Linked DNA regions of Homo sapiens: regions 1, 2, 4, 5, 6 and 7 are each linked to region 3. A link means that fine-mapping ties the variant in region 3 to the plasma level of a protein whose gene starts in the linked region. Region 3 holds a variant in brackets. A gene starts in each other region. All regions are shown on their forward strands.

What was found. PIP is the chance, under the fine-mapping model, that this variant and not a neighbour inherited with it causes the effect. The UK Biobank Pharma Proteomics Project read protein levels with antibody pairs (Olink). The fine-mapping took linkage between variants from a reference panel, not from the people measured, so its PIPs are less certain.
Region 1: it holds the start of FCRL3, and the variant in region 3 is fine-mapped to the plasma level of the FCRL3 protein (UK Biobank, PIP above 0.99).
Region 2: FCRL2 starts here. The variant in region 3 is fine-mapped to the plasma level of the FCRL2 protein (UK Biobank, PIP above 0.99).
Region 4: it holds the start of CR2, and the variant in region 3 is fine-mapped to the plasma level of the CR2 protein (UK Biobank, PIP above 0.99).
Region 5: it holds the start of CD72, and the variant in region 3 is fine-mapped to the plasma level of the CD72 protein (UK Biobank, PIP above 0.99).
Region 6: FCRL1 starts here. The variant in region 3 is fine-mapped to the plasma level of the FCRL1 protein (UK Biobank, PIP above 0.99).
Region 7: TNFRSF9 starts here. The variant in region 3 is fine-mapped to the plasma level of the TNFRSF9 protein (UK Biobank, PIP above 0.99).

The regions. Positions count from the first base shown.
Region 1 is chr1:157,698,812-157,702,890 of GRCh38, forward strand. It overlaps FCRL3 (Fc receptor like 3), which reads right to left and starts at 1,958. Exons shown (of 15, transcript NM_052939.4): 1 at 1,851-1,958; 2 at 1,648-1,774; 3 at 881-901. The coding sequence starts at 1,678.
Region 2 is chr1:157,775,316-157,779,391 of GRCh38, forward strand. FCRL2 (Fc receptor like 2) reads right to left here and starts at 1,817. Exons shown (of 12, transcript NM_030764.4): 1 at 1,728-1,817; 2 at 460-480. The coding sequence starts at 1,758.
Region 3 is chr17:16,946,674-16,950,752 of GRCh38, forward strand. It overlaps TNFRSF13B (TNF receptor superfamily member 13B), which reads right to left. Exons shown (of 5, transcript NM_012452.3): 3 at 2,065-2,310. Among named protein-coding and RNA genes, the nearest start is that of TNFRSF13B, 23 kb to the right of the region's middle. The variant A/G (reference allele first, on the strand shown) is at 2,200.
Region 4 is chr1:207,451,945-207,456,023 of GRCh38, forward strand. It overlaps CR2 (complement C3d receptor 2), which reads left to right and starts at 2,384. Exons shown (of 20, transcript NM_001006658.3): 1 at 2,384-2,532. The coding sequence starts at 2,475. RefSeq lists silencers at 2,223-2,452, 2,833-2,942.
Region 5 is chr9:35,616,191-35,620,269 of GRCh38, forward strand. It overlaps CD72 (CD72 molecule), which reads right to left and starts at 2,223. Exons shown (of 9, transcript NM_001782.3): 1 at 2,032-2,223; 2 at 1,824-1,931; 3 at 986-1,057; 4 at 410-499; 5 at 1-88. The coding sequence starts at 2,113. RefSeq lists enhancers at 1-638, 1,078-1,227.
Region 6 is chr1:157,817,761-157,821,760 of GRCh38, forward strand. FCRL1 (Fc receptor like 1) reads right to left here and starts at 2,360. Exons shown (of 11, transcript NM_052938.5): 1 at 2,247-2,360. The coding sequence starts at 2,277.
Region 7 is chr1:7,938,894-7,942,960 of GRCh38, forward strand. It overlaps TNFRSF9 (TNF receptor superfamily member 9), which reads right to left and starts at 1,946. Exons shown (of 8, transcript NM_001561.6): 1 at 1,891-1,946; 2 at 1,002-1,185. The coding sequence starts at 1,101. RefSeq lists a silencer at 3,650-3,789.

The DNA of each region.
Region 1 (4,079 bases), not on the chromosome of region 3:
TTTCCTGGAGGTGGGCAGAAGGGTATTATAGGGGAGAGGTCTCAGTTTCCTGGCATAGCCTCAGAAAAGCTCAGGAGATGTGATTTGCCATTGGGCAAAAACTGCGAAGGCCTCAGAATGTGGCTGATCCTGAAATTCTCTTGTCCTATACATTTCTGTCCAGATAAAGGTGAACCTGGGATGTATATACCTCAGAAGTAGTTTCTAGACTCCAGAAAATTACTTCCTACTTGTTAACACTTAAAATGAATAAGATTTTCTCACTTGTATTACTTTTATATCTCTCTTAGCTTTGAAAGTCTATGGGGAAGGCAACTTTACTCTCCATTTAAGTTGGACACAGTAAACAATGGAGGGATATAAAGAATTTAAATGGAGGAGGATGGGTTGCCTGAGAAGTCAGACTTGTGTATGGAATTGCAACTGACTGACAGGCATGGAAGTGAGGTGTGGCAGTGGCATGAGCTCTTTTTGGAGATTTATAAGGATTCTGCTGTAGCATCTTCCTCCGTGGATGGGATCTATTTCTATGTCCTTTGATAGCAGCACTAGCTTGGACATTCAGAGGGAGATGTACTAGAGAATATGGAGATCACATATGAGATTCCTTCATCATCAGCCTCTTGCCTCTGTCCTTTGCTCTGCAAGTGTTTCCTTCCTGTAGTCTGAGGAATACCGGTAATGTAGGGAGAAAAAAAAAAAAAAACCTAGAGACTGAAAAAGTCGGAGGAGGCTCTGTTCACCCAATATAGTAGCAGATGTGACCCCAGAGCATTAGCATTGCTGATGGGATGCGTGCCTGCAAGGGTTAGGGCAGGCTGTGTGGGCTGAGGGGACCAATATCCAGAGACCAGAGGGGCAGAGAGAAGGAGAAACTTACCTGATTGTTCTCTTCCAGGAGCTGTGAGGGAGCAGAAAATGACAATCAGACACTCTCCGAAACATTTTCTAACAACCTAACCACAACCACTTCTTTTGTTTTTCCTTATCATTTCTTTGCTCCCTTTTTATATCATCCAGAGCCCCTAAACAACAAAGAAAATGTCATATAATGTATTTTACAAACGTGATGGCTTATGTCCAAGGCCTGACCTCATCTCTGCTATTATTTACTTGGCCACGGCACACTTTATTCTCTCCTTCTCTTCTCTGAGTGCAGAGGCAGACAAGGACTTACAGAAATGGTTTATCCTCCTTTCGTTCCTTGGGCTCCTATTGTTCCCCTCACTTTTTCAATCTCTGATTAAATTTTGGCTTAAAACTTCTAGAAAACAGTGATGTTTCTCAGTAAACCTTCCTTCACGTGCCTAGGTTTTTAGAAGTAACTGCTCATCTGAAAAATTATTTAGTCTGAGGCTTAAGAGGGAGGGTGGGATATAGAGTTGTGGTTTGGCAGAAGGAAAAATCCAAGTTTCCTATGAGGTGAGAAAAGCAGTGGGTGAGAAACCAAGGTCAGGATATCTGGCTTGCTCTGATGGTTGCATTTGGAGCCTCTTGGTTGTCCAGGGAACCCAGCTCTGCTCACTTCCCATCCCTTGCTATCTGTCTCTGAACCCCAAGTAGAAGCAGAGATAGAAGCTCCTTGAGTTTTTCCCTGGTCACCTTTAGGAACTGAGGCCGTGGCCCCATTATAGCCCATCTACTCACTCAGGATCAGCAGCAGCAGCCACAGAAGCATGGGCACCGGCCGGGCAGAGGGTTGGGAAAGTCTGTCTCACCAAAAGCCCGACTTATCTCCAAGAAGGAGGGCAGGAAGCTGCTACTCAGATGAGACCTGCAAGAATCAGAAAAGGGAAGAAGAGCTTAGTGTCATATTTTGCTTTGGGCTCTGAAAATGTGAATGTGGCTACCTTCCTAAATGCTGTTTGTATCTCAATCCCGGTAGTGATACATTTTTAGAAGTTGGGGCTCATCTTCCATCAGCTGCAGTCTCTCAGGAGTAATGTCTCCAAGACTGTGCCTGGGTTCTCTAGAAATATCAAGTTGTGTATTTGCTAGTATTCAAATAATTCTTTCTGTATTTTTCATATGGGAAACCCCTTCACTACCTTGTCTTCACACAGCCTTTGGTTCTGCATGCAGCTCCTAATGTAGGCAAGCTTAATGAGCGTGGTGTGAATCACACAGTCAAGGTGTCAAGCATATGCCTTTTTGACTTTCACATAAGTTGTTATGAGGCTTCTGAACAGGAAAATAATACAAATGTACAGATCAAGGACTTCCCGTAATCTCACCCAGATCTGCAAATTAGGAGATAAATCAGCAAGCGTACCACCGTTTTTAAAGCCAAAGCCCTTCTCAGAAAGGGCTTTGCAATCAAAGAGGTTCCACCCCATTATTTTGTTTCAGGTCCTTTGTGTTTTTTTCACAGTGTTTATAACAATTTGCAATTATTTTCTCTATTTCCTTGTTTGCTTTCGTGTCTTCTTTCCCACTAACATTTAAGGGCCCCTTTTCTTACCCCTTATATCCCCCGCACCTCTAACTGTTCTTTCTTGAAAGCATTCCTTTAGTAAGTATTATTTGAGGGACTATTGAATAAAAACTCTGAACCAGTGTTTCTCAACCATTTTTTCGTTATTGCTCCCCTAAGGATCTTTTTTAGACAATTTTGTTTTTAGCCACCCCCTTTTTCCATGAAAATTTAATACCACAAATATACTATGTATGTGTTTATGTGCTGCATGTATAGCTGTGTTTGATACATTAAAAAATTAGTTTTTTTCATCTTCCCAAGAGTCAATTCTTGCCCCTTTGAAGGTGATATAACTTCTGTTAGGAAGGCGTGTTTTAGACTTAGAGGTAAGCCATTCTTGGGAATCTACCTACCAGGATAAAGTTGTCATCATTCAGATACCTTTACATTAGAAATGGGAGATGATCTCAGATCAAATGTCCCATCCTCAGGGTGCCCAACCTTGGCAGGTAATGGAAAGAGGGTCCTCTTTTTTAACAAATATTATTATGTTCTTTCTCCCATGGAAGTCACCAAATTTTATCATTCTCTATATGTTTATGTGATTGTATAATGCCTATTTTTCTCATTAGATAGTATTACAAGGTTTGGGAACAAGCCTGGTTTGTTCTTCATTTTGTTTCAATGCCTAACAGAGCACTTGTCACATACCAATTTGTCAATAAGGACTTGCCAAATGAACGACCAACAAACAGTAAGGAACAGGATGACAATAGAAGAGGATTGGATGTGTTTCAATGTGTGCTTAGTCATTCCTGGTTAGAGATTTCTCCAATATTCTGGAGAAGATATATTGGTTATATCAATTTATTTAAATTAAATTAAATTATTTATTTAAACTATACCCAGTTAATCCACACTACAGGGTCTTTGTAAACTTGTAATTGTAGAGTATGGTGCCACATCTACTGAGAGGTATTCTCTGACCTCCCACATTTGGGCTGGGTGTTCCTCTCATGTGCATCAATAACACTTGGATTTCCTTCACTCCAGAACCGATCACAGTGAACTGAAACATCCTGTCCCTTTGATGGTATTCCTCAATGATCTAAGTATCTTTAGGGAAGGGAGCGGTTAGGGCTTATTTTTTATTTCTCTGAGGACAGCATGCTCATCAACAAAAGGAAGGTTCAGTGGGATATGGATAGCTTCGAGATTCAGTGTGTCATTTCAGACTAATTCAAAATATGAATAAACCTCAAATATACTTCATGCTCAAAGGTGACGATGTTGTTGATGACTCTGAAGTATTGTTTCCTGTGGTTGGAAAGATATGCTCAGAAAAGAGTATTTTGAATTTAATTGCTCATCTGTAGCCAAAAATGTTACATTTTTCTACGTCTCTCTCTGAAGACAGGAACTATGTCATATTCACATTATTCTAGCACCTAGCACAGTGCCTAACACTCAGTAGAGGATTGCCAGATAAAATGCAAGGGTCTCATTTAAATTTGTATTTCAAATAAAAAACAAATAATTTTTACTATAATTATGTTCCATACAATACTTGGGATATGTATGAGTTCGTTTTCATGCTGCTGATAAAGACGTAACAAGACTGGGCAATTTACAAAATAAAGAGGTTTATTGGACTTACAGTTCC
Region 2 (4,076 bases), not on the chromosome of region 3:
CTGAGCTAGAGCTAGAGAAGCAATGAGGACACATGTTTATTCTGACCCTGCAGAAGTTTGTAGTTCTGACACATTCCTCTATAAATAGCTGTTTTCAGAGCTGTAAAAACATTCAGCATTCAGCCAGACAATAAAGAGGCATTACAGTCCTATGGGCAGGAAAACAATTCTCTCCAAATTGTTCTTTTCTTCAATCTGCATGTTATTGCCCTTCTTAAAGCCAGGCTTTTAAGGAAGAGGCAAGCATGTGGGGTCTTGAGAAGGCTAGGTGGTACCTGGTCACCCAGACATGCAAGTGGTGTTGGAAACAGGCTGCGTGACCTCAGAACATGTCAGCCTAGAGGGCAGTAATATTAGGACATCTTCACAGGCTTTCCAGAGCCACCTCTATAGAATCCTGGGGTAGTGGGGTGACTGATATGCCAGAGACCAAGAACAACAAAGACAAGGAGGACTCACCTGCCTGTTCAGTGACTGCATCTGTGAGGAGATCAAAAGCCAGAGATTAGCACACAGCATTTGCCCTCATAATTTATAAATTTATATTACTCTGGTAAATTGCTCAAAAACTTCTTTCCATTTTCCCTTTCTTTTCTATTTCCCTAATCTCTTATTACTAACAATTCAATCTCCCTCGAGCACACATCTAACTGTCATTCATTGTAGTCAAAAGGCAAGTTGCAAACCCAATGCTTGACTAAAGGGATTGTCGAGAATACCCATGTTGGATATTTAGTGACTCTCCTTGATTTCATTTTCCTTCCACCATCCCCACCACTCTATCTCACACTCTGACTTTTCAAGTGGTAGATAGACATGACAACACGATCACAAAGGGCTCATCAGGAAACATACATTGTGAGAGTTCCAAGAAATCAACAAATCAGTCTCTTTCCTATGGCCATATTTCACGTTAGAGCCCTTTGTATTCCAATAACAAATATTTATTTAGTGCCTACACAGCATAGAGAAAGGGATCTTATTTACTCTCTCACCCAGGCTGGAGTACAATGGTGCGATCTTGGCTCACCACAACCTCCACCTCCCGGGTTCAAGCAATTCTCCTGCCTCAGCTTCCCGAGTAGCTGGAATTACAGGTGCCCACCACCACGCCTGGCTAATTTTTGTATTTTTAGTAGAGATGAGGTTTCACCATGTTGGCCGGGGTGGTCTCGAACTCTGACCTCAAGTGATCCACCAGCCTTGGACTCCCAAAGTGCTAGGATTACAGGTATGAGCCACTGCACTCACCCAGGAATCTTATTTTCTAGCAGCAGCTGTCATCTCCCTCATTGTCCACGATTAAACAGAGGAATATTAGCAAAGGGTCTCAATGCATCTGCTGAACCCAAATCTTATAGATAACAATTGAATAATCGGTGTTCATGGAGGAGAAGGGCATTGCTAAATGCTAATATTATGAACATTTTACTATGAGAACATTATATTACTCAATGAGATCTAAGATATCAAAATAGCAATTCATGACCAGCAAATGGAAAAGTGGTCCACCTTGAACATTAAGCATTGTGCTTAATGCTTAATGGATGTGCTGCAAATTCACTGTCCTCAGCCTACTTCTTTGCATCTGCCTTTGAAGCCCAAGCTGCAGGCAGGACCTGAGCATCCCCACCAGTCCCTGGGCTCCAATAAAACCTCCAACCTTTTGGGAGCAGTAGACCTCATTCAGCTGCCACCTCACTTCTCAGTCAAATTATTGAACTCACCAAAGATGACCAGCAATGACCACAGCAGCATGAGGACCTAATCCAGCTATTTGAAAAGAGATGTACTCTTGGTCACCAACTGGAGACTCTGAGCAGGCGATGAAATGTGGTTTTCAGAATAGGTTTTGTATAATTAGCAAAAAAGGAAGTAGAATAGTGCCACTATGTTTAACCATTATCTTTGTCCTGGAAGGGCTAAAACAATTATAGCTGATCCTCTCAATGCCAGAGAAATTTTGTAACTTGACCCTCATTATGATACCTAGCATTTACATATGGGTTGCAATGAGTCAGACACAGTTCTAAGTGCCTCATGCTTACAGAGTTATTTATTACCTTCAGCAAGTTTCTGAATTGGCACTATCCCCTTTCACATGAATAAGGAAATTGAGGCACTAGTAAAGGTAAGTGTCTTAGTCCATTGGGGCTGCTATAAAGAATACCTTAGACTGAGAAATTTATAAACAACATAAATTTATCACTCATAGTTCAAGAGGCTGGGAAGTTTAAGATCAAGGCACCAGTAGATTCAGTGTCTGATGAGGGCCTGTTTCTCATAGATGGTGTCCTCTATGTGTCTTCACATGATGGAAGGAGCAAACAAGCTCCCTCAAGCCTCTTTTACAAGGAGACTAATCCTTTTCATAAGAGTTCCACACTCATGACCCCTAAAAGGTCATGTAATAAAAGGTGGGTACCTTTTATTACTATTGCATTGAGGATTAAGTATCAACATAAGAATTTTGCCAGGACACAAACATTCAGATGATAGCAGCCAGTAAAATGACCAAGATCAGCTTAATCAATTTCTAGTAGTAACAGATCTGGGATTCAAACCCAGGCAGCCCAGTGTCACAGTCTGGCTCTTAAACATTGTGCCCTATTATCTTGATATATTGCTTCTCAAGGTTCATAAAATAATAAGGCCATTGTTTCAATAGCTCATATTTCTTAAGTAAAATTTTTCGTAGTCATTCGATGACTTTCTAGAATGAGATTTTACTAAACTTCAAAACACTTGCACTATATTGCTGAAAACATTGCCATCTTTCTAATCTGTAATCACAACATTGCCTATTTCTAATCTGCATTGCTTTTTGTACCCCAGGCTGATCCTAATACAGTTATCTCACACAAAGCAAAGCGCGTGTTATGTGAACACCTATTATCATGCTCACTTTGATTAGATGTAGTCCCAGTAGATGTTGTCTCATCAGTGAACCTTATGCAGGATGAAACTCTAAACCAAAAAATCACAGGTGCTTATAAATGAGGGACTGACTGAAAATATTCATAGACTCAATGTTACCTGTTCAGGTACTTAACATTTACCTGAATACTTAACATTGAATTTTTAACAATTGGATACTTAACATTTTATTCTCACTATTATCATAGTTTTACTTTGAGAAAGGCTAATATTTATATGTGATGGTCATTAAAGCCTTGCTTATAATAATGTAAAAAGAAAATACTAAAAATATATCACAAGGAGAGATGTGTGTTAAAAATAAGTTATGTGTCAAATGCTGTGGAAAACCAAACAGCCATTAAAATAATTCTGTGGAATAATATTTAATAGCAAGATAAGATGTCTAGGATATATGATTAAGAAAAAAGTGGGCTGGGTGCGGTGGCTCACGCCTGTAATCTCAGCACTTTGGGAGGCTGAGGCGGGCGGATCACGAGGTCAGGAGATCAAGACCATCCTGGCTAACACGGTGAAACCCCATCTCAACTAAAAATACAAAAAATTAGCCGGGCGTGGTGGCAGGTGCCTGTAGTCCCAGCTGTTTGGGAGGCTGAGGCAGGAGAATGGTACAAACCCGGGAGGCAGAGCTTGCAGTGAGCCGAGATCGTGCCACTGCACTCCAGCTTGGGTGACAGAGCAAGACTCCGTCTCAAAAAAAAAAAAGAAAAGAAAAGAAAAGAAAAAAGTGGCTGCAGAGTGCACTTTATCTGCTGCACATTATCCCCTGCTCTCCAATAAAAAGTGTCTGAGACAATTCGCACCACAGAGTTACTGTAATTATATCCAAAAAATCTAATTAAAGCTGATTTTTATTTTCCTTATTTTGCTTATCTGTGTATTCTAGTATTCTTACAATAAACATATGCTATTTACGTACTTTTTAAAGATTCATTATAAGAAACTAGGTTTTATGGCCTCTCTCATCTTAAAGTGTTGAAAACAATACTACTTTAACTTTCTGCATAGGCAAACGGTTTGTATGTGTTTGAAAGTGTAAGTTACTCTTTCCCAGGACCAAAGCTAGTCACTGATCATCAAATCTTGCCTACTGAATGGGTTTCTAGGTGGCCTATAATTCCTTCCCATTCTGACCAACC
Region 3 (4,079 bases):
ACCTCTTGGGTTCAAACAATTCTCCTGCCTCAGCCTCCCAAGTAGCTGGGACTACAGGTGTGCACCACCAGATCCAGCTAATTTTTGTATTTTTGGTAGAGATGGGGTTTCCCCTTGTTGATCCGGCTGATCTTGAACTCCGAACCACAAGTGATCCGCCTGCCTCTGCCTCCCAAAGTGCTAGGATTACAGGCATGAGTCACCATGCTGAGCCTTCTCTTTTTACAATTTTTTTTCCCTCTGGCAGTTGTTAATGAACTACTTAAACATTTTAAGTGATACCTTTCCCTTCTCTTTCTTAGGAAGCCTCTTTTGCCTCTAAATGGAATCTGATGAATTCACAGCCAGATTCTAGCAGATGCACAAAGAAGAGCTGGTACCAATTCTACTGCAACTATTCCAAAAAATCAAGGAGGGTCTCCTTTAACTCATTCTGGAAAGCCAGCTTCACTCTGGTACCAAAACCTGGCAAAGACACAACAACAAAAAAAAGAAAACCACAGGCCGATATCCCTGAGGAACATAGATGCAAGATGGATTACAGATTTAAATGTAAGACCCTAAACTATAAGAATCCTAGAGAAATCCTGGAAAATACCATCCTGGACATTGGCCCTGGGAAAGAATTTATGACTAAGTCCTCAAAAGCAATTGCAACAAAAACAAAAATTGACAAGTGGGATCTAATTAAATGAAAGAGCTTCTGCACTGCAAAATAAACTATCAGTGTAAACAGGCAACCTACAGAATGGGAGAAAATGTTTGCAAACTATGCACCCAACAAAGGTCTAATATCCATAATCTATGAGGAAGTTAAACAATTCAAAAAGCAAACAACAAATAACCCCACTAAAAAGTAGGCAAAAGACATGAACAGACACTTTTCAAAAGAAGACATGCAAGCAGCCAACAAACATGACAAAATGCTCAACATCACTGATCATCAGAGAAATGCAAATCAAAACCACAATGAGGGACCATTTCACACCAGTAAGAATGGCTATTGTTAGAAAGTAAAAAAACAACAGATGCTGGTGAGGCTACAGAGAAAAGGGAACGCTTATACGCTGTTGGTGGAATGTAAATTAGTTCAGCCACTGTAGAAAGCAGTTTGGAGATTCCTCAGAGGACTTAAAACAGAGTTACCGTTCAGCACAGCAATCCCATTACTGGGTATATATCCAAAGGAAAATAAACCGTTCTACCAAAAAGATACATACACACGTATGTTCATCACAGCACAATTCACAATAGCAAAGACATGGAATCAATCTGGGTGCCCATCGATGGTTGGATAAAGAAAATGTGGTAAATATACACAATGAAATACTACACAGCCATAAAAAGAAAAATACGTTTTTTGCAGCAACATGGATGCAACTGGAGGCCATTATCCTAAGTGAATTAATGCAGAAACAGAAAATACCACATGTTCTCACTTATAAGTGAAATGCTAAGTGTCGAATACAGATGGACATAAAGACAGGAACAACAGACACTGGGGCCTACTAGAAGGGGGAGGCAGAGAGAGAGGGCAAGGGCTGAAAAACTACCTATTGGGTGCTATGCTCACCACCTGGGTGACAAGACCATTTGTACCTCAAACCTTAGCATCAAGCAACATACCCATGTAACAAACCCTACACATGTACCCCCGGATCTAAAAAAAAAAGTTGAAATTATAAATAAAATAATAATAGAAATAAATGGAGTCTGCAGCACTGGTGGAGGGCAGGTGGTGGCTGCTGCTCAGGTGCTCACACAGGTGGGTCTGCTGCTTACTTGTGCCTGTGCTTCAATGACTGGCACAGCCTCGGCAGCCTCTAGTGCAAGGCTCTTCCTCACACGGCAGGTCCTTTCTCCTGCTTTCTTCTTGTCCACAGACTTCTGGAAATGTTGCCTACATTGTTTTTTTTATCCTGGGATGATCTCCCTGGCTTCTGGCCATTTGCTTGGACTCTGGGCTTCATGCATTGTGGACTCTCCTGTTCTAGGCCTGGCATCAGGCCTCCCACGCTTTCTCACCCTGCGTGACACCATGCAGGTTTGCCTTGGGTGGCTTACCTGGACTTGCTTCTGAGCCTCTGTGCTCCAATCCTTGGTACCTTCCCGAGTTGTCTGAATTGTTTTCAACTTCTCCACTCCGCTGTCTCCTGAGCTCTGGTGGAAGGTTCACTGGGCTCCTGAGCTTGTTCTCAC[A/G]GAAGTATGCACATTGCTTAGGGTGCTGTCCACAGATGGAGGCACAGCTGATGCAGTCCCTCAGGAGATGGTCATAGAACTTGCCTTGCTCCTTGCGGCAGCTGAGTGACCCTGGGAGAGAGAAATTCATGATACTGCTGGGTGACACAGACTAGCAGGAACTCTGGGTTTGACCACAAAGGACATCAAAGTTAAAAAAAAAAATACAGTAAAATTCCAGAAGGCAATTCCAGAGTAAGCCAAGTACTTTTACAATATACACATTGAAGACTATGCATTGTCCTCTAAGTACTATTTTAGCTGCATTGCATTTTGATGTGTAGTATTTTTCCTCTACCTAGATCAAAATGCACTTATTTTTCATTATTATCTTTTCTTTGACCTATGGGTTATTTACAAGTGCATTTCTTAGTTTCCAAACGTATGAAGATTTTCAGTTATCATTTAAAATTTAGATCTGGATTACATTGTTACATAAGACTTTTACTTGCATTTTTCAAGCCTCATCAAGGAGAAATATATTTCAAATCAGCATAAGGAAAGAAGGGGAAAAGCCAGAATCCTCTTTGACAAGCTGGGGGAGGGGGCTGGAAGGAAGGTGGAAAAGTTCACATGAATAGTGTTTCTTCTGTCTTAATACTAGATGAGAATTACAGCAGCTTACACAAGTATCAGTGCCAAGGCACAGAAGCCAAGGAAACTAAAGCCAAATCACACTTGCCTTAAGAGAGCACAGTGGACCCAACTTTGAATGCATAAAGAAACCTATTTGGAACAATCAATTATCTTATCTAAAGTCTCAGAATATTTCTAATTTTTTTTTTTTTTTTGAGAAGGAGTTTCGCTCCTGTCACCCAGGCTGGAGTGCAATGGCACGATCTCGGCTCACTGCAACCTCTGCCTCCCAGGTTCAAGCAATTCTCCTGCCTCAGCCTCCCGAGTAGCTGGGATTACAGGCGACCACCACAACACCCGGCTAATTTTTGTATTTTTAGTAGAGATGGACTTTCGCCGTGTTGGCCAGGCTGGTCGTGAACTCCTGACCTCAGGTGATCTGCCTGCCTCGGCCTCCCAAAGTGCTGGGATTACAGGTGGCATGAACCACCGCATCTGGTCTAGCCTCCGAATATTTCTACATGGAAGTTTTTACGTGAAAAAGGCAAGTTTCCTTTGTATTTAGAGTAAGGTATGGCTTTTGAGATGTCCTGACTTCGTAAATATGAATAAATAAATAAATAAATATGTATAAATAAAATATATGTGGCTCACACATATATTTTAAGGACACATTTTGGAGACAGTGCAGGATAGTGGATAAGAACCCAAATTTCAGAACCAAATTTCAGTTGGGGCCATCCCTGGCTGTACCACTTGCAGGCAGTGTGGTCTTAGCCTCTCCGTGCCTCAGTTTCCTCATTTCCAACATAGGGAAAATAACAGTACTGACTTCTTCGTAGGGTTGTTGGCAGAGTTGTAGGGCCCAGCACAGTGCCTGGCACATACTAAATGCTCACGTAATGGAAAGCTTAAGTAGAATATTCATTTGAGCCTCTTCACAAAGCAAACAGATCCGTTCTTGTGTCTTTGACAGAGTAAAGGAAGGAACTAAAAGATCACGGAATTGGGACCTTAGGGAAAACTCAGATGGCCCACATAGGGCCAGTGACCTCCCCTGCTCTGGCCCTGCCCTATCCCCAGGGCGCCCCTGAACCGCACAGAAACTGACACCTCCACTCTGCATCACACAGGGTTAGCCCAGCATTGGTGTCCTTGGGGCTTTCTGTGACCTCCTCCCCTGTTGCAGGTGGTGCTGTTGCAGGTGGTGCCTGAGTGCCCCAGCCCACTGACCCTCCCTGCCTGACCTCACACCCCTCCCTGCC
Region 4 (4,079 bases), not on the chromosome of region 3:
GAAGAATCACTGTGAATTCATGACATATATAAATATAGATATGGGAATGGATATACATATATATATATAATACATATCCTTGCTCTGTCTGCTGAGAGGGTGCGGAAACAATGATACTCCAATAAAAATGAACACACTTAGCATCCAATTCTGGCATCTAAATGCCATTCTCTGCCAGAAAGAACCAGCATTCCTTGGAGAAACAGCAAATTCCAGTGTCAGGTCTAGAGGTGAGTCTGGAGCATTTTTTTTTGTGTGTGTGCCAGAAAGTAAGGAAGTGCTCAAAGAACAATAAGAACAAGTCAAAATGACATAGGAACTATTTTGAGGGCTCCCACTGGCCCGATCAGGGAGAATTTAAGCATCAAAATAAATAATGGTAGCCATGAATTATGACCCATTGAGTAAATAAATAAAATTCATATTGATATAGTTTATGCTGATATAGATAAATGAATAAATAAATAGAGAAGGGAAAACTTTTATTTACAGTAAAATGCCAACAGATGAATATAGAAGTAATTATTAAATTAGGAAAAAACACCCTTTGACAACCATCATAGTAAAAATTGATTCAAGAAAGGATCATCAATAGACGCTAAAATTTGTGGGTAAAAATTTGATGAAAAAATGAGGAATTTACATAGTTTTAAAGTATCTCCCTATAAAATACTTATTAATTACAAAGGGAAAAATACTGAGTCTACACTAAGAAACATGGCAGGCACCATCTTAACTAAGTGATCAAAGTTACCACCACCAGTAATAGGACAAATAGACAACATATGCCTCCCCGTAAGGATAAGACATCCTTTCTGGTATTCCTGTCAAATAATTAGATTCAATAACCTGAATCTATCATGAAGAAATGATAGACAAATCCAAATTGTGGGGTGTGATCCTGTCTCCTGACATTACCATCCACGTATACTGCCCTCCTACACTGAAAAGGGCTGATCTGTACAATCAATTGGATATTCTGGAGTTAACATATTGTGATTTCTGAGGACAGGTCACAAAGGACATTATGGCTTCTTCTTTCTTGTTCTCAGAGACGCTAGCTGGCATGTCACGAGGACACTCAACACACAAGCAGCGAGCCCTATGGCAAAATCCACGTGGTGAAGAATGAAGCTTCCAGCCAAAGGCTGGTAAGTGAGCCATCTTAGATGTGGATTCGCCTATCCCAGTTAACCCTTCAGATGACTGCACCTCCAGCTGGTGTCTTAACTGCAATCTCCTGAGCGATCCCAAGCCAGAACCACCTGACCGACCCACAGAAACTGTGAGATCATAAATGTTTATTCTTGCTTTACACCACTACCTTCAGGGTAATTTGTTATTATAATAGATAACGGACTTAAAAGTCATTCTCCAAAAATAATTGTGGTGTATTCGTCAAAAATGTAAAGGTCATGCAATACCAAAAATGCTGAGGACATTTTTCCAGAATAAAGAACTGGGGGTGGGGGGAAGGCATAATGATCAAACACAATACATGATCCTGAAATGATTCTGGACCAGGAAAAACAAAGGTTGGTTTCTATTGTTGTTATTGTTTTTACCATAACACAGGTTATTGAGATGATTGTCAAAATTTAAATACAGATGGTAGCTTATAGTCTTGTGTCAATGTTAAGTTCTTATTTTTGATCATTGCACTCTAGTTATGGAACAGAAAGTCCTTAGTGAACCATTTAGAATAGGAATAAATGCTAGATGGTTCCAAAGTAATAATTATATAATTATAATTATATAATCACATATATGTACATATATGTCTATAGAGAAAGAATAGAGAATGGTAAAGAAAATACAGCAAAATGTTAACATGCAGAGAATCTGGGTGACAAGTATATGGGAATTCTCTGCAGTACTCTTGAAACTTTTCTGTAGAGATTACTTCAAAATAAAGAACAGAGCAGAAGTGGCTGCTGTTCCTAAATTCCCTAAGTAAACTTACACTGCTTTTTCAAACTGGGAGATGAATCCACTAATAGGTTTTGAAATGAGTTTGGTGGATTTCTAATAAGAATAGGATAGCCTAGCCTAGTCTAGCATAACACAGCATGGCACAGAGGACGAACATTGTAGATTACTAAGGGTGAGTACTAACTTGTGAAAGTTTTGTTTAAGTTCTAGTAAGAGAAACAAGTGAGTGTAGTGGGTTGCGTGGTCAAAAAAGTGGGGAAGCCACCGCAACGAGGGGTGAGTCTGAGCCAAAGAGTGGCTCAGAGCTCCCCGCCCACCTCGTGCCGGGCCGTCCCTCCCGCTTGTCCCACCCTCACCGGCGCCGCGTCAGCCCCCAGGCCGCCTGCAGGTGTGCGCTCAGAACTAGCACGTGTGCCGGACACTATTTAAGGGCCCGCCTCTCCTGGCTCACAGCTGCTTGCTGCTCCAGCCTTGCCCTCCCAGAGCTGCCGGACGCTCGCGGGTCTCGGAACGCATCCCGCCGCGGGGGCTTCGGCCGTGGCATGGGCGCCGCGGGCCTGCTCGGGGTTTTCTTGGCTCTCGTCGCACCGGGGGTCCTCGGTGAGCTGGGAGGGGGAGCACGGAGGTGGGGACGCGTCCCGGGCAGGGAAAGTTTCTGTGCCGCGATGCAAAGCAGGGGGCCAAAAGCGAGACGGTGGGGGCAGTGCTCGACGCGTGTCCGCCTCCCGCTAGCTTTGAGGGACCACTGCAATAAACCGCCTGGTCCTGATTGTCCCCACTGGCCCCTCCGGGAGCTGGGACCTCCAGAATTGGAGGCTGCGCCACAGAGGGGCGCTGTCTGGTCGGCCCGGTGTGGCTGGCGGCGTGCGGGTGCTCGCGGTCTCCTGCCGGGCTCCCCGCCCCCAGGATTCTGCAGGTGCTCATCGCTCTCTGGCCGGCGGTCAGCGCTACCGCTCGCCACGGGAAACCTACCCACTGCATGAGGCACCAGCTAGCCACGTGAGGCTGTTTCTGTACACCCGAACCGCGCTCTTGCCCAGCAAAAGCGGCAGAACCTCGGCTCCCTTCCCTAAATAAGAGTAAGACCTGGTTCCCAAGCATGGGTCTCAGATTTTCTGAACTCTAATGTGATATTGGTAGAGATCCTAAACATTAACCATCCGTAGTTATTTTTGAGACATGGATTAAAACTATTGTTTTCTTCTTGTTATTAACCTACTGTAATGGTGTGGACGTCCGCAAAGGTCTCATTCACCGTTTATTATATCTTTTTTTCCTCCAGATTGGCTTGATTTTAAAGAAAGATTATAATTAAGATTAGCGTCTCTTGGCTACAGGATGGGTCTAAGTTTCTAATTATCTCCACGGTACCGTGCATTCCTAGTTTATAAGACGTTTACTGTGTGCAGACCTCAATAACTGGGTGACTTTTGGCAAGTCATTTAGCTCCCTGATCTTCAGTTTCTTCATCTGTAAAATGAAACTAGTGATTAACTGGCCTTCCACCTCACTGAGCTGCCCTGAGCACAGATGAAACTAAGCAAAGAAAGTTGGATGTTAGTCGTTACTACTAAATATCAGTAATAAGCCTCCTGTACAGACTTGATTTTATGGAGCCAGCATTTAAGCTAACAAGCTGGGTGTCCAATTGTTTCTATGGACATCCAGCTTATTGAGGTGTCTGGAATACAGCACATATTAGTTTATTACAACTTTTTGCTTTCCTGACATTTTACTGTCTCCTGACCCTTAAACCTTTCTCCAGACCATTATCTTCATCTCTTTTCTTTTTCTGCATATTAACTCCCTTTGAACAAATGTATATTCACACTTTTTCTAAGAGCAGAGTACGTCCCTGACTTCTCACCTATTTCTAAATTTCAAAGAGGATATTATCAACTGAAAATCAAATTCTTCACCAGTCCTGCCAATTCAGGGCCACAGCAGCAGCATCATGTAGGTCACTTAACTGGAGCCCCATGAAATACCAGGTCTACCTATCAGCCATTCAAGCTACTGTGCTTCTGTTGTTTGTCCATTTCTCATTTTTGTACCAGTATTCCCATCCTAAGCATTATAATTACCTGTGTAACAACCTCATCTCTTTTAAGAGATTTTGGTTCTTATGATTGGAAAGGTTAAAGAGT
Region 5 (4,079 bases), not on the chromosome of region 3:
ATCTTGAGGCGGAGCTGCTGCCTCAGGCTGCTGTTAGTGACTTCCAGAACCCTGTTCGTCTGCTGGAGCTGCTGAGACACCTGCAGATCTGTTTGGCCACAGAGATTTGGTGGATGTCTTCTCCAGCCCTGCCCTAGTGCCCTGAGACTGCAGCATCAGCCCTTTTTCTGCTTCTTGCAACTTTTTGCATCACAGGCTGAAATACAAGATTTGACTGACTAAAGCGTAAGGAGGTACTGGATTAGGTGAGGACAATTCAGGAAGACAACAGCCCTGGCTGGAAACCAAACCCAAAGCTAAGGAGGTGGTGGTAGTGACTATGATCCCTGCTGAGGAAGATCAGCTTTGGGGCGAGAGTCGGGACGAAAGTCGTTCGGTGTAAGTGGGAAGTAGGGACAGCCTTACTCACAGCGCACTCCCAGGCAGATGGCGGTCACTCCTAACAGCAGGCAGGTGAGGAGCAGGCCGAGCAGGAGGTATCGCAGGCAGGTTGTGCGGCCTTAGGGGGACAGTGGGATGGATGAGGGCAGTCAGCCCCCGTAAAGAATGTAGAGAGGAAGGGACAGGTCCGTGGGGGAGACCCCTGGGGAAGGCATCCCTAAGAGGAGGGCGGTGCAGAGCTGAGGGGGCAAGCATGGTGGTTTCTGTCGGGTAGCGGGGTGTTTCGCAGGTAGGGGAGAGGGTGTTCCAGAATCAGTGCTGGTGGGGACTCGGGGGCGTTACCTGGGAGAAGGGGAAGGAAATATCAGACGGAGAGAGGGGAAGGGGGGCAGGTAGGTGAATTGGGACCATCCGCAGGGGGGCGGTGCACGTCGGATTCAGGCGCACCGGATGAAGGTGAATGTGGCACGGCAGCCCGGGCGTCGGAAGGACTGCGCCCGGGTTTATCCCGGAAGGAGCTGCACCCCGCGGGGCCCAGCGCCATCCGCAGCCGGGACAGGCGCGAGCACTTGGCCCCGCGGCTGCCCCGCACAGGCACACTCACAGGGGAGAATCCGCCCGACAGCTGGTGACGTCACGGCTCTCCAGGACGCAGTTGGCTGCTCCGACTTGACCGCTGTCGAGGGGAGCATCCAGTGTGAGACCGGAAGCCCCGAGTGTTGCCCCTTCTCCTCCTGCGCACCCGCTTCGCCCTCGCCACTGGGAAACTCCAGTCTGCCCTACGTTGCCTGCTAGAGCTGCTCTGGGACACAGTGTCACTCTCCTGAGTTCCTCCTCTGCCCGGGACTCTCTCGGCTTCCTCCTGGGTCTCACTGTATCTTTTCCCGGGACCCCCTCATCTCTCCTAGTTCTCCCTTTATCGTTTCCTCAGAGGCCCCTTATCTGTCGGCTCCAAACCCTCTCCCCCTTTGCTCTCATCCATCTCCCATCACCTCTTTTCCCTCCCATGGCTCCCCGTTTCCCATTAGAACTCATCCCCCACAGGGCTGCCCTATCCCTCCGCAGCCCTTATCTCCCCGAAAGGGGTCTCCACCTTGCGGGAGGAATCTTTCTTCCTCCCCTGGCTCCCATTTATCCTGTTCCTATTCTTCTGTTTCCTAAGAACCGCCCTCCTCCTTTCCCCAGGGTATTGTGCTCTCAAGAATACTGAGGGCCATGGCATGGGGGCGCACGCCTGCAATCCCAACACTTTGGGAGGCCAGGGCAGGAGGATCACTTGAGCCCAGGAGGTCGAGGCTGCAGTGAGCCATGATCACACCACTGCACTCCAGCCTGAGTGACAGAACAAGACCCTGTCTCAAGAACAACAACAAAAACATTGTGGACTCCCCAGCTCAAGACACAGCCCCCCAACAAACACACATCCCCCAGGCTCTCCAGACCTGCTTTGTCCCCTAGTACAGAAGAAGCCAAGCTTGAGGGCACCCCTAGGACTGCGGGCACTTGAACATTCTCGTAGGTGATTTCCCCATCATCATCAGCCCCTGGGTCTAGAGAGAAGAGAAAAGGGACCAAGGTGGGATTTGGGAATGGGATCTGTGGGGCGGGAAGTGGGGATGCAGGATCAAGGGGAGGCCTCATCCCCCTTACCCTGTCCTAACCGGCTGGAGATGCTCTTCTTCAGGGGAGCCTTCACAAACCTCAGATCTGCATAGGTGATGGCCTCAGCCATGGTCCTGAGCAGCTCTGCCCCCACTCGTCTTCCCTGTCATCCACTGTCCTCCCTTGCCCCTCTCGTCTCTGTCCGTTTACAACTAGGCTCTGTGTTCCCTCTGTGACTGCACGGCTTAGCAATTGGCCCTGTGACTTCCAGTCACAAAAGAGGAAGGTGTTAGCAAGTCTCAAACAGATGGGCTCAATGAAGCAGAAGGCATCCCTGGGCCAGGGCCAGAGGGGCCACGGAGGGGACGCTGAGGTCCAGAACACAGGGGTAGGGGATGGGCCTGTCCCCATGTCCTCCCTGTGCTTCCTCTCCATGCATCTTAAACCCATATGGGCCATGCTGGGCCCCAAACTCGGTCCTTCTGGTTATCTGCCCTGATCTGCCCCACCCTCCTCCTGGCTGCCTTGTCCACTGGGGCTTATGATGTGTAGCTGGAGCTGCACTGACCCAGACGATCTCCCCAGCTCCAGGGTGAGGCTCCGTTCTCCCCATGAGACTGGGGGTTCCTGGTTTGCATCCCTCGCTTCTCATCATCCTGGGGGTTCCAGTAACTGGGGGTTCAGGAACAGGCCTGGGCCAGAGGTGAAGGTAAGGAAGAGCCATGGCTGCAGCACCTCTGGAAAGGCAAGTGGCAGCACTGCCCCCCATGCACCCTCATGGGGAGCCAGGGAGCAGGTGAGCAAGGGAGTTGCAGAGGGCTTAAGAAGGCTGCAGCTTCCTAGGTGAAGTCAAGGCAGAGGAGCAGAACAGAGCCAGAGGCCGAGCGCAGATTCCGGACCAGCGGAGGTCTTGACATTTTCTTGGTTTGGTTTTGGTTCGTCTCTTACTTTCCTAGCAAAGTTCTTTCTTTAAAAAGTCCCAAAGCTGTCCCTTCCCACCCAGCCCCAAGGAAAAAGGGGGCATTTGTGGCGGAGGACCCAGGGACCGCGAGGCCCTCATAGGTGGTGGGGGCCTGGCTGATGGAGGAGAGAGGGAACCAGTTGGGGGAAAGGGGGCTGCTGAGCAGGGGTGCCCAAAGGTGCTCCCTAATGTTCTTTTACCGGGATGTGACCCCTACTAGGAACCCCAAAATGGCCTACATCCGGGATAGGAAGGAGCTAGAACAAGATGTAGTGTGGGGGTGGGAAGAACCCGCCCCTAGCAAAGTGACATCCGCCCCGCAGAATCCCCCTCCTGCAGCTGTGGGGAGGAAAAAGGAAGGGGGAAAAGGTCCTCACCACATGCCAACAGCTCGGATGATTGGTGGTGTGTGGCAGGACACTGCCAGGGACCCTAGAGCTCTGCCAATAGCTCCGCCCAGCCAGCCCTAGAGGAAGTGGCCACTGAGGCAAAGCTGTGACCTCAAAAATGTACTTGTAGAGAGGCACGTGTGCATGTGTGTGCATGGATATGCATGTTCCCAGGACTTTGCAGTCTGTTAGGGCATCTGTGAGGTGAGCGGCTATGTCAGAGCCTGCCTGGAGGAGGAAGCCTTCTGTGGGCTGAAGGCTGCCTGTGATCACTGTTATTTTCCATGGCAGAGAATGACGGGTCATTTTCAGAAAAGTCGTCAAAGGTCATCACAAGAGATCCTACAAGTATTTCCTTTTTGAAGCTCACTGTTTCCTAAGGTGCCTCTGCAGCTGTTAACTGTCCTTGCTTGATTAAAGTTTCCAACAACCTAGACCTTCCCCCAGATACAGAGAGTGGTATGTGGTGGTGACTCCCTGGGGACCTCAGGGGCCCTGAGAGTGAGTGGGAGGGTATAGAGCAGCTGGTGGCAGGGGTGGGTGGGGTGGGAAGAGTCAAATACTTGAACCTGTGGTGTACAGGGGGTGGGTGTGGGCAGTGTGTGAGTAAATCAATTGCAGGAACATTTGCAGGAGTTCCACAAACTGTAGAATGTCCCAGTTTTCAGATCCAATACACAGGTGAACATGATGTAGATGCCAGGTAAAATGCCAAAACCAAGCTTCTAGTCTGCACTCAAAAAGGT
Region 6 (4,000 bases), not on the chromosome of region 3:
CTTGCAGTCAATACATCTGAGAAAAAGTTAATATCCAGAATATATAAGAAACTCAAACAACTCAATAGTGAGAAAACAACCCTATTAACAATGGTCTAATTCTCAAAAGAAGAAATGCAAATGGCCAACAGGTATATGAAAAAATGCCCAATATCACTAATCAACAGAAAAATGCAAATCAAAACCACAATGAAATATTACCCCATACCTATGAAAATGACTATAATCAAAAAGACCAAAGATAACTAGTATTGTCAAAGATGTCGAGAAAAGAGAATCCTCACATGCTGTAGGTGGGACTGTAAATTAGAACAGCCATTATGGAAGACAGTATGGAGGCTCTTAAAATATAAAAAATGGAACTACCATATGGTTCAGCCATCCCACTACTGGACATGTATCCAGAGGAAATTAAAGCAGTGTGTTAAAGAGATATCTGCACTCCCACATTTATTGCAGCACTATTCACGATAGCCAAGACAGCATCAATGTAGATGTTCATCAAAAAATTAATGGATAAAGAAAATGCAATATACATACATGATGGAATACTATTCAGACATAAAAAATAATGAAATCCTATCATTTACAACAACATGGGTGAGCCTGAAGGATATTATGTTAAATGAAATGAGGTAGGCACAGGATGACAAGTACTGCATTATCTCACTCATGTGGAATCTGAAAACGTTGATCTCATAGAAGGACGGTGCAGAATCATGGTTACAAGAAGCTTGGGTAATAGTGGGGAAGGAGGAATGAGGGAAATGTTGCTCAAGGGATATATAATTACAGTTAGATATGGGGTGTGTGTCCAGAATAGACAAATATAGAGAGACAGAAAGTAGATAATGATTGCATGTGGCCAGAAAATAGAGGGGTGAGGATAGGTGAGGCGTTGGAAAAAAAATTGGGGATGCCTGCTAGTGGGTATGGCGTTCTTTCTTGGGTGATGAAAACATTCTGAAATTGATTGTGGTGATAGTTGCACCACTCAGTGATTGTCATAAAAAACCATTGGATTGCATAACTTAAATGGTGAATTGTATTATATGTGAATAATATTTCAATAAAGCTGTTTTTAATAAAAGATACTGTAGCATGTTTGTATACTTATGGGAATAATTTAGAATGAAGAAACATATTGATGATGGAGCAAACTTTTTGAGAAAGTAAGAGGGTCATGGGCCTAATGCACAAGTGGAGAGTCTTGTCATCAACAAGATGAGGGGCAATATATTCGTGGTAGGGGAAGAGAAGGCAGTGTATGTGAATGCAGAGGTGAGTAGGTCAACAGCAACAGAAAGATGAGAGAGTTTTCTTCTGACTGCTTTTATTTTCTCAATGAAATATGAAGCAAGATTACACAATGAGAGTGAACAGAGAAGTATGAGGTGACAGGATAAGGTATGCAATAGTGATAATGGAGCAACATGGACTGTGAACATGTAGGATAATTGCCTGGCATTGCTGTTGGCTACCTGAGATTTGGGGGTCCTACACTTAAAAGGGGATAAGTCATCAGGGTTGTGCATTTAAAAAAAAATCCCATTCAGCTGTTTATGTCCAGGAGTGAAGCATGCAGAAGGGCGTGTAAACCAGGAGAGTGCTATGGGGGAAGAGAGATGAAGGTGTGCTCGAGGGAGTGTTGTGGTGGTGAGCTGCAGAATCTGAGCTGAGCACCATGAGAAGTGAGCACATGAAGTGTAGTTACTGATAATGGAAAAGTAGCCCTGGGGTAATTGAAGTCATGTTGGAAATAGAGTGCAGGAGAAAGTGAGCTAGAAACACAACTTAGTGGGGGTGGGGGATGTATGCTGAAAACAAAGGAGTGATGATAAGTTCTAAGGTTTGACTGTGGGAATGGGGAGTCAGAGAGGGATAAAAGGAAATAACGTTGGTAGTAAGAAGGGCAAGGAATTCAGAGGCCTATTTATTATACAGATTTTTCTTTTGGCAGCTGTTGAAAACACTGAGAACAAAGACAATTATTGATGGAAAGGAAGACAGACAGTGAACACTTCCTATGAGATAAAAACTGAAATGATAGTTTTCTTGAAAACTCTGGCTTTTTGAAATATCTACAACTTTTTGCCTGACTCTGAGCCCTCCGTGGAAGTGGAGATCTGAGCACCCCTGAGCATTACCTGACAGAACCTTAGTCCTAAGAAGTCCTTACAGCCCTTCAGGAAGCAGAGCCCAAGCATGATTGCATCCCATGCCCTGCTCTGAGTTGCCCAACTCACCACAGATCAACAGCAACAGCCTCGGCAGCATGAGGACCAGGTCAGGGATGGTACCTAGAGATGCCTCTCATCAAAAAAAGAATGCACCTCAGAGTCGAGCAGCAGCAGCTCATCAGAGGTTTGAGGAAGTTGATATCGGAAGTTACCCTTCAGCAGAAGTAGAAGGAAGAAGAACCCTCTAGTGACCAGTCTCCATTTCCTTTTCTATGAAGTCTGAGAAAATTAAAGATGCTCCTTTTTAAATATAGTTTGATTCAGTTCCACAAGCTGCAGATAGTACACATCAATATTTGAGGGACTTTTTCAAGAATTCAGGTATTTCAAAGGAAGTTTTCTAAAGGCAGTTTCCTACTTTGATGAGTCTCATCAGGTTATGGTCCTGCTGAAATTCATCTTTGATACATCTACAATACTTTTCACCTTTGATAGGGATGTCTCCTGGATTGTTTCTAATTGGCACATTCTTCTTGCTCAGCAATATAGTCCCACTATGCAAACTTTCTCTAGTATAGTCATATTATGCAAACATGTCATTAAATCAGGGACTGATGGGGCTGTCACCCCGGTTATGTGTAGTGTCTGACCCTTGCTGCATATGATGACTTATGTACAGGGTCAACCTATTCATACAGATATACGCTTTGATATTCAAACTTTCAGTGTACCAGTAAATGAGCATGAAATCACTGAAAAATAAAATCACGGCAAATTACAATCTGGGGGATATTTGAAAATGAAATACAGAAAAGAAGTATATGCAAATTAGCTTCAGGGCACTTGAGAAGGGTTCACCATTAGTACTAACTCTGGCATTTGTAAAATTGCCCCTCTTTTCCCTCAAAATCAGGGCACCTATAATCTCTCCCATTGCTACCTTTAGCACATTAGGGATACCAGTTCTAGGCAAGTGAAGCCTAGATTAGGGATTGGAGGAGAATAAGCTATCTTAATTTTCAACATTTCTTAAATCCGTGAGTGTCTAGGATTAAGAATAACTAGAATGTGTGGAAAGTAACCTATTAGGGGAAAGATGCTGTCAGGCAATGATGTCTAAGTCCAGGTATCCAGCTCAATGAGTATGACTGAGAAAAGAAACTATTCAGTGATACGCAAAACCAGAGGGAAAAGGGAGCAATGTTGGTAACCAGGCTAACAGCGAAAGTGCTGAAAACGAATAGGTATTCCATAGCTTTATTTATTGGCTTAGGAAAGCCTGTGTGGGGATAAGCTTGTTTAGTGTAAAGTTTCAGGACCAATGCAAAAAAATCTCCTGAATGAGAATGTAGAGCCCTTTAAATCCAGGGTGTAAAGCTGTTTTTGCATACACTCTGCTGTTTCATCTCTCTCTTTTTCTTTTAATCTGTTGGTTTTTTTAATGTTTTAATTGACACATTGTAATTGTACATATTTATGGGGCACAGTTTGACATTGCAATATAATACATATATATGTTGTACAGTGATGATCAAATCAGGGTGGTTGGCATATCCATTGTCTCGTGCAGTTTTCATTTCTATGTGGTGAGAACATTCAAAAGCCTCTTTCCTAGCTATTTTGTAATATATAATACCTTACTAGTAACCATAGTTACCCTACTGTGCAATAAAACACCAAACCTTATTCCTCCTATCGAATTGGCACCTTGTACCTGTTGACCAATCTTTCCCTCTCTTCCCTCCTCATTCCCTCCTCAGTCTCTGATAGATGCTATTCTATGCTATACTTCCATAATATCAACTTCTTATTTTTTTCAG
Region 7 (4,067 bases), not on the chromosome of region 3:
AGTTTACAATAAAATAAGATTATAAAAGAATGATGAGTTTTCTAGATGCCACAGTGGTGGACATTAGTTTGATTGACTTCCTAAAACAATACATTTGCAAGATTATTCTTTGTGTAATCACAGAATTAGAAATAACAAAATACAGGCCAGGTGCAGTGGCTCACGCCTGTAATCACAGCACTTTGGGAGGCCGAAGCGGGCAGATCACCTGAGGTCAGCAGTTCAAGACCAGCTTGGCCAACATGGTGAAATCCTGTCTCTACTAAAAATACAAAAATTAGCCAGGCGCAGTGGTGCACACCTGTAATCCCAGCTACTCGGGAGGCTGAGGCAGGAGAATTGCTTGAACCTGGGAGGCCAAGGTTGCAGTGAGCTGAGATCGTGCCACTGCACTCCAGCCTGGGCGACAGAGTGAGACTGTGTCTCAAAAAAAAAAAAAAAAACATACACACACAAAAAAAACAAAAAAACCAGATATTGTAACAAATAAATCAACAGAAAGAAAATACTTTATCTATTGAATAAAACAAAATGATTATCTTGATTGATGTAGGAGATGAATATGACTGGATCCAGGAGGACATCAATGTCCTACACTAAAATTTAAATGCGACTGACCGTCCCCACTCTGTTAAGCCCTTTACTACGCGCTTACTCGCTGCTATGCCCCCAGTCGGAGCACAAAGCCCTACACACAAAACTAACATTTATTGAAGTCTTGCCTTGTGCCATGCACTGTTCTAAGCCCTTCATTTGATCCTCCCAGCCATCCTATAAAACAGGTTCTCTTATTATCCCCAGATGAGAAAGTCAAGGCACAAGAGGTTGAATGACTTTGCTGTGTTCACACAGCTAGGTTGTAGCATCCAATAAACATTTGTAAATGAATGAATTTTCATTTTCCTTTCCTTAAAAGGGAGCTCGTTAGCCCTGACTACTAGACTAACTGAACCATACTTCCAACAGAGCAGATCAAATGCACATGATAACTGGGTACTCACCAGCTGGGCAGTTACTACAAGGATCCTGCAATGATCTTGTCCTCTCAAAGTTGAGGACCAGCAACAGAGTGGCTACTATGTTGTAACAGCTGTTTCCCATGATGAAATCTGGCACAGGTATGATACTAGCAAAGCTGATTCCAAGAGAATTTTAATCAAATTAGCTGGTCTCACAAATGTCACTCTGCAAAAGATAAACATTTCCAAGGAAAGGTGGTTTCTCCTTTCAAAATTATCTATATTGCAATCATTACTTATACAATTCTATAAGAGGATAACTCAGGGTTTTTCAGGAACAATTAATGATGCAATATTACGGAAAAGTAGCAGATTCATAGAAACCACTAGGACAAGGCAGGCGTGATTAAACACACAGCTTTGTGCCGGTTTGCCAAAGTTTGAGGGTGCATTTTCCATCATGTTCTGCCAAAATGCAGAAATAACAATAGCAAGAACTTTTGGGGACTTTCATAGGTACTTTGCAGTACCAACCAGCAATAATGCCAATTACTTATTGCCCCTGAAATAAACTCCTTACAAAGAGAATCTGTCAGGGGCATCAGACAATTCAGTTCAAGAAGAAGCTATCACATAATCACTCTTCCCCCTTTAGCTGAACACCTAACTACTAACATGTGGAAAGACCTCCCTGTTCAACTCACTAACACATTTTCTTAAACAGAGACATGTTTTGAGATGTGAAGTTTGTATGGTAACAAAACTAAGGAGTGAAAAACTCTTCAGGCTAAGTTATTGATGTTTATTTAAAGGGCTATTGAAGAGAAGTTATTACATATTAGGAGAAAAAGTCTAGAAATGGGCAAAGGGAGCAAAAGTTCCAATCTCACCCCTTCTCAGTGCCCCCACCCACTCCCCCAGATGGACAGACCTTGAGATCTCAGGGCTGCCGGAGAACTTTCCACTCCTTGGTCTTCAGGCTTCTGCAGCTCGAGAGGACTTCAGGTCAAACACAGGAGTGCGGTGACTCAGCCAGGGGCGGGGTCTCATGGGAAATTCCCACCACAGCTCTGTGACAGCCCTATGAAATCATTCATTTCATATCTGCTGACCCCGAAATCCCCTAGAGCCCCCGTCCCTGCCTGATAATGGCACTTCAAATTGCTTCTTGGAAGCAGCTCTCTACTGTCAGGATGTGTCACAGATGACGCTGGGAAAACGATTTTGTCCCTTAAGATAGCTCTCCAGGACAAAGCATTTAGCATGTCCTTAAAACACTGGATTTGAGATTAGAGGAATGAAACCAAATTCAAAACAGTGATCAGCATTTTGCCATATGCGGTCCCCTAACTCCATAGTCACTGTAATGCAATAGCTGCCATTACTTGAGCACAGCCGATGTGCCAGGCATCAGAGATGCACTGCGGTGAATACACACTATCCTCGAAAGAACCCTAGAACTTGGTATGACTGCTGTTGTTACTGGGAGAACACTATGCAAATGAGGAAAGTGGGGCTGCAAGTGGAATTAGAGCGTCAACAGGACAGGGAGCAGGCAGGGTTGGAACCCAGGTCGGCCTGGTCCCTTATCGTGCTCCTCCGGGCATGGGTGACAGAGGGAGGAAGGAGGGAGAAATGGAGGGAAATGGAAACAGGGGAAGCACAGCAGTCACACGGCAAGTCAATGACCAGGACGTGGTTCGGTGAAGCTGAGAGCTAGGAGGGATTTTTAGAAAACCATGATTTCAATTTTTCTTTAAAAAAAAAAAAAGGAGAAAGAGACCAGGCGCGGTGACTCATGCCTGTAATCCCAACACTTGGGAGGCCGAGGTGGATGGATCATCTGAGGTCAGGAGTTTGACACTAGACTGTCCAACATGGCAAAAACCTGTCTCTACTAAAATTACAAAAATTAGCAGGGAATGGTGGCGGTGGACCCCTTTAATCCCAGCTACTGAGGCTGAGGCAGGAGAATCGCTTGAACCTGGGAAGTAGAGGTTGCAGTGAGCCGAGATTGCGCCACTGCACTCCAGCCACAAAAAAAAAAAAAAAAAGAAGAAGAAGAAGAAGAAGAGGAAGAGGAGGGCAGAGAAAGCAGAAGGAAAAAAAAGTACAGTAAGAGGAGAGGAGGAGTATAAGGAGAAAGAAGAGGGAGAAGAGGAGGAGGAGGAGAAAAATAAAGAGAAAAGGAGGAGGAGGAGGAAGAAGAAAAGAACAGAAAGAGAAGGGGAAGAGGAAGAGGAGAAGGAAGAATGAGGAGGAGAAAGAATGAGACGGAAGAATGAGGAGAAGGAAGAGTGAGGAGGAGAAAGAATGAGAAGGAAGAATGAGGAGAAGGAAAAAGGGGTGTTTCTGGAGGAGGAGGAGGAGGAGGAGGAGGAGGAGGAGGCGGCTGCTCCAGGCTGTAGATGAACCTGCCCATCATTGAGCAGCTGGAGAACCTCAGGAAAACCAGGGGAACTGTGGCTGGGGCAGGCGTGGGCTGGGGAAGGACATCGAGAGTAGCTTGGGCCGTCCTCCTGCCCCGCGGTTCCCAGCACGAGCTCTCCCGACAGAAGAGGAAAACGCGGCGCGACTCGGTTGGGGGACAGCGCTGAGATGCGGACAGATGCGGACGTTCTGCCGCCGCCTGCAGGCAGAGGGACTCGGAGATCAGGCCGCAGAAGCAGAAGAAGGCAGACGGGAAGGAGGAGGAAGGAAAGGAGCCTTGTGGCTTCGTGTCCGACCCTCCCGCCCTTGGCCCGCGTGCCTGGAGCCAGCCCCACCGCGCCCGCGTTTCCTCCCGCGGGACTTCCCTTGGCCCTGGGTCTGCAGCGGGTCCTGCCGAGCTTCCTTCCCTCAGGCAGCCTCTCTCTCCCTGGCCACTCTCGGGGGTGAGGGGGGTTACCGGTTCCCAGTGATTTTTATTCCCTTTGCTCTCTCACGCCTCATGTTCCCCATTCTCCTGCCTCAGTTGTGTAATCTTGAGCAAATTTCTCAACCTCCCTAACTCTGTTTTTGCAAGCACATCTTACAGGTGCAGTGACACCATACATCTTCCTCGTGAGTGAGGATTAAATGAGACGATGAGCATGAAATACTTAGCTCAATGCTTGGCACATAGTTCTC